Regions from separate parts of the Homo sapiens genome. Here region 1 is linked to region 2. The links come from fine-mapping of genetic effects on gene expression. A gene starts in region 2. The other region holds a variant in brackets. All regions are shown on one strand. Distances are from middle to middle. Region 1 has its middle 12 kb from the start of WTAP. Region 2 holds the start of PNLDC1 (PARN like ribonuclease domain containing exonuclease 1).

The links.
Region 1: its variant is fine-mapped to the expression of PNLDC1 in esophagus mucosa (GTEx, PIP above 0.99). The same link has a PIP of 0.9 or more in thyroid and tibial artery.

The regions. Positions count from the first base shown.
Region 1 is chr6:159,714,048-159,716,960 of GRCh38, forward strand. It overlaps a transcript of SOD2 not described here. Among named protein-coding and RNA genes, the nearest start is that of WTAP, 12 kb to the right of the region's middle. The variant C/CA (reference allele first, on the strand shown) is at 1,429.
Region 2 is chr6:159,798,941-159,801,853 of GRCh38, forward strand. It overlaps PNLDC1 (PARN like ribonuclease domain containing exonuclease 1), which reads left to right and starts at 1,336. Exons shown (of 19, transcript NM_001271862.2): 1 at 1,336-1,443; 2 at 1,832-1,889; 3 at 2,173-2,246. The coding sequence starts at 1,368.

The DNA.
Region 1 (2,913 bases), 85 kb before region 2:
ATTATCCTCCTTCTGCCTTCAAATGGGCTATAGCAAGATGACAAGCAGAACTACTTCTGCTCACATAAGCAAGTGATCACATGAGCACACCGGCTTTACCTCTAATCTCTGCTGCCATCTGACTTCTCTGTGCCTCTGCTGTCCCATCTGTCACATAAGACTAATACAGGCCCTCACCTCCCTAGACGTCGGGTTGTGAGGACCAAAGAAACATCATCTCTGCCTATACCTTTTCCTCTATTCTTTTTTCCCTCCAGAAACCCAATGACCTTGGACTTCCCTGAGTCCCACACTGGCTGACATATTACATACGGATTCTTCCCTCCAAGGGAAGATAAGCCTAGCTTCCATCGGGAACAGACCCGCACATTCCATCAGTCCCTTCTCCTGACTGTACACTCCCTACTTCACTCCCCAGGCAGGGCCTGGGTAGTGAACTTTTAAGAACCAACACTGATTTGACTTCCACCAGCAGGCTCAGCAGCACAGCCTCTAGATGTTTTGCTCGTTTCATCGCCAGGCGGTACTCTTTCCCACGGTACTATAAAGCAATTCCTGTTTTTCACTTTGTTGAAAAGGTGTGCCAAATGACTGCAATTCTGTGTGCCCAGATTATGATAAGCCTACCCTGGTGTCCTGCCTAACTAATCACATCACAGCCCACTGGCATTTTCATCAGAAGCCTTTGCTTGAGTGGATGGGGGTAGGCTGCAGATTCTTCTCTGTTGTCTGGCTGGAGTAGAGCAGTTACTGTCTAAAGGTTTTCTGTCTTGGTAGACTGCCTCCTTTCTTGGACCTTTAGTTATACATAAGAGGCTTTTGCTGGTGGCTGTTTTTGTCTGTGCTTGTTGATGTGTACAGATTGCTGGCTTCTGGGATATATGAGGCAAAAATGAAACACAGGGAGTCATTCCTGTGTCAGTCCTTGGGTCCTGAAGTCCATAGCCAGTTTGCCTTTCAGTCTTCTTCTGCTTGTTTTACATATAATATTCAGGATTTTTAGCCATACTTGGTGAGAGGAACATGGAAAAGTATGTCTAGTCCATTTTCCCAGGAGTGGAAATTTCCCAGACTTGTGTTTAGAAAGGGCTTGTTGTGTAGGAGAGAGTTTGGATGGGAAGCAAAGATGGGTGGCAGAGGACCAATTGGGGGGCCACTGTTAGTCGACAAGAAAAGCTGAAGACCTGGATTGGCCAGTGGCACTGGGACCCAAATGAGTGGGATAGAGAAAACTATTTACAGGTTAAGAAAAACAGGGAAGAGCAACAAAAACATGTCTAACAGGAAGTCAGTGTGGTCAACAGTAGAACCATTGCTTAAGGCCCAGTGCTCTCCTCTGGCAGAAGAATGGATTTACAGTTTGTCAACAGTCACATAGTTTTTGAATGGACTGTCTCCTGTCCTAGTGGGTCTTTAATTTGTGGGGAA[C/CA]AAAAAACCGTCCTTTTAAAAACTGAAGAGATTTGACTGAAGGTTTGACCAAACAGGATCTTACCGTTGCATCCATAAGGTTAAACACTATTAGCAAGCAACAGAGGCAAACAGAATAGTATTTTGAAAAGTTCTGAATATAGGCCAGGCATGGTGGCTCACGCCTGTAATCTTAACACTTTGGGAGGTCAAGGTGGGAGAATCACTTGAGCCCAGGAGTTTGAGACCAGCCTGGCCAACATGGTGAGACTCCGTCTCCATAAAAAATGCAAAAATTAGCTGGGTATGGTAGTTCACACCTGTAGTCCCAGCTACCTGGGGGGCTGAGGTGGGAGTATCGCTTGAGCCCAGGAGGTGCAGGCTGCAGTGAACTGAGATGACACCACTGGTCTCCAGCCTGGGCAACAGAGCTAGACCCTGTCTCAAGGAAAAAAAAAAAAAAAAAGTTCTGAAAATAAAATCCTTCAAGACCCTTATATTTTTATTGTAGTTAGCTTTTTGTCTTATAAAAGTTTGGTTTTCTGGAAATGAATAATGACTTTTAAATTTTTGCTTTATTGTGAAACAAGGGCTATGGACATCATAATGTAAAAACAACAACAATAAAGCAAAGTGTCACAGAAAAACCTAGTTTTGCTGGCACCTCTCCATTTTATTTCACTTGCTGATCATGTAAATGCCCTTCCTCTCTAAGTTAGAATGTGTTTGGCTATGGGTAACAGGAATCCTGATGAACAGTGGTTTTAAATATAAGGACATATCTGTTTTACCTAATAAAAAGTACAAGAACTGGCAGTCCCTTGGTGAGTCTGGAAGATTAACAAGGTCATCCCGGACCCAGGGACTTTCCATTCTTGACTCTGAATTCCCAGCAGCCTGCTTTCATTTTCCAACTTGTTGCCTCATCGTCACAAGATGTTTCCTATAGGTGCAAGCAGCACAGCCTCTCACAGCCTAGTAAGAGACAACAAGGAAGGGAGGGGGAAAACATTTCACCTCATGTGCCTCTCCCCGGAAGGAAAATTTTTCTCAGAAGCCCCGAGAGATTTCCTCTGATCCCAGCCAGAACTGCTCAACTGGCCAACTCTGCCTGCAAGAAGACTGAGCACCATCACTATGTGGTAAAGACCATGACAGCCATGCTTGCCTTAGACCAGCAGTTCTCATCAAGGGCATGACGGGAGGGGGCAGTATTGAAAATATAGAAAGGGACACTTTCAGCTGTCACATATACAGAGAGGTGCTATTGGCATCTAGTGGGTTGGTGTGGGGATGCTAAATGTCCTAAAATGCACAAGATACTTTTCACACACACACAAATTGTCTTGTCCAAAATTCCAGTAGCACACTTGTTGAGAAACACTGGCTTACACCAGCCATAATTCATCTCCTGGCCTGAAGATACTATGACTCAAACACAATTTAGAAGTTCCTAGATTGTGCAAGAGGAGGAACATGGCTCCCAGTAGTGTGTGCCACAATACC
Region 2 (2,913 bases):
GGTGGCTTCTAGAGCATTGTTTTCCAGTTTTTTTAATGTATACCCCAATTAAATGTTTGTTTAGAAGTGAAATATGTTACTTCTGCCAATTTGAGTATTCAATGTGTTATTTTAAATGGAACACATCTGTATGAAGTATGATTTGTTCTGAGAGGTCTTCAGAATCAAATGGCTTAATAGTCCCCTTTTGCTTAATTAATGTCCCGGAGAGGCATTTAAAAGTATAATTGAAGATCGGATGCAGTGCCTCACACCTCTAATCCCACCACTTTAGGAGGCTGAAGCAGGTGGATCACTTGAGGCCAGGAATTCGAGACCAGCCTGGCCAATACGGTTTAACCCTATCTCTACTAAAAACAAAAATGAGTTGGGCGTGGTGGTGCATGCCTGTAATCCCAGCTGTTCAGAGGCTGAGGCGGGAGAATCGCTTGAACTCAGGAGGTGGAGATTGCAGAGAGCCGAGATGGCACCACTGCACTCCAGCCTGGGTGACAGAGTGAGACTGTCTCAAAAGGAAAAAATAAAGTATAACGGTAATGTTTTCTCCGCTAACCTTAAAGATTGATTTGAGCACCTCACTTTGAGGACCATAGTTCCAAAACGCTGTTCAAGTAGAAGCCTAGAATTCAAGGGAGGACACTGTAAGGAAGACCATGGACTAGTTGCACTGGAAACAGTAACAAAAGTAAAAATTAAGCTCACATGTATGTGATGATGTAGGTAGGGATTTCCGCAAGGAGTGAGTGCACGAGATAATCCCTGGGGACCAAGGATTCCTTCAATTTAATGGGCAGTTCTTGAGGCTTTGCAAAGTTTGATTGCAGGTGTGAAGACAGTGGTAAGGTGGACAGCAGAATGAGGAAAAAGATGTCCAGGGGCGTGGGAGAGGGAATGGGGACAGACATACTGGCAGTGATGGAGAAGTTGGGAAGAGGTGATTTAGAAGACCGTGAGCCGCAGCAAAGGATCTGCTTATTGCAGTTGCGTCCGGTGTTGTTCCTGCTCCGCTTTTCTGATTTCACCCTTTCTGGACTCTGTCTTCGTCTCCTGCCACGCCTCTTAACATTCTAAGTCCATGTAAATGACATTCTCACGTTAAGGGCTGCAAAGAAATTGCTGAGGAGCCAGGTAAACAGGCTTTGATTGCAATTGCAATCAAACCTCTGTAGCAAATCGTACAATTAAAACACCCGCAGGCAGGTGTGGGCGACGCCAGCAGCACACGGGGAAGCTGGGCACGTGGGGCGGAGGCAGCTGCCTGGTTTCCATGTGTGCGCCCTTTAAGACCCGGCGGCGCGACGGAAGCGCGTGGGCAGCACGTGGGCAGCACGTGATAGCGCTGGGCGACTCCGCGGAGCTGCACGGCCATGGACGTGGGCGCCGACGAGTTCGAGGAGAGCCTCCCTCTGCTGCAGGAGCTCGTCCAGGAGGCCGACTTCGTGGGTGAAGAGCCTGGGATTCGCGGCTGTGCCGGACAGAGCCCCTTGCCCCGGGCGAGCTTGAGGAGGGGGTGGCGGGACGGTTGCCAGGCCACAGGGCCTCAGAGAGGGCCTCGGGAAGGACAGGGGGGCTTCCTTCTCCAGCCCCGGGGCGGTGGGACTTTGAGCAGCAAGTACACTCCGAGCCCCACGTCCCTTGTTGGCCAGAGCCCCGTGCGCCCAGGTGCCTGGCTGCTCCTTGCCTTGGTTCCTCCATTTTCCCTTCCTGACCTCACTTGGCTTCTTGAGCGCAGAGGTGAGCGCGGGTGCCTTGGCCGCCTGCAGATCTACAGTGTGAGGAGTGCTGGCGATGTTCTGCACCCGAGGACTGCTATTTTTTGCCTTCCTGGCAGGTCTGGACATAGAGTTCACGGGCCTTCGTTCTAACCTGTCTGGGCCCCAGCAGATCAGGTAAAACTAAAGCTGTGTCCCCTCTGTATAAGAGCCTGGCCAGACCAGCACTGTTTCTGGCCAGCAGCCTGTTGGCATTTGGGGGGCAGGACGTTTTGTGTGGCTTGCTCCTACGTGTTGGAGGACCTTGCTTTTTTCTGTCCACTAAATGATGGTAGTGCTCCCTAGTTGTTGTAACAAGGAAAAAATCCTCCCCGGTTGCGAGTGGTGGTCCTGCCGCGGAGGCCATAGTGCCGGGATGGGATGTCATTGCTCGTGGAATGAGATGCCTGTTTGTTCACAGTCTTTTTGATTTGCCATCGGAGTGGTATCTAAAGACCCGTCAGAGTGTTCAGCAATTTACAGTCTGTCAGATTGGTGAGTTTAATATCAGCTGTTAGAGTTTTTCAAGAAGGTATTTTTATTGTCCTTGGATTTCCTACTGTAAAAACAGCTCTGAGATTTTTCAAGGATATTGAGTATCGTTTTGTATGCTTGTTTTGTGTTGGGCCATTGTATACATATGGAAATCAACACTTCGGAGCAAACCAAATTTAGCAGCATTGTTTCCGTGCTTAAATAAGTCAGTATTAAGGAACACTCACTGTTACTCTTTCAAGTAAAACTGTGTGTGTGCGATTTTTATTTTATTTTTTGAGACAGGGTCTTGCTCTGTCACCAAGACTGGAGTGCAGTAGCATAGTCTTAGCTCACTGCAGCCTAGACTTCCTGGGCTCAAGTGATACTAGCACGTCAGCCTCCTGAGTAAACTGGGACTACAGGCTCACCACCACACCTAGCTAATTTTTAAATTTTTTGTTCAGATGGGTTTTCGTCATGTTGGCCAGGCTGTTCTTGACTTCCTGGGCTCGAGCAATCTTTCTGCCTCTGCCTCTCAAAGTGATGGAATTATAAGCGTGAGCAACCACACCTGGCCTGTGATTTTTTTTTCTTAAGAAAATTTACACACAAAAATAATTTTTTTTAAGGTCATCTCAGTTTCAGAAACTTTTTTTTTTTCCTTGATGGGATTTGGAGATCTTTC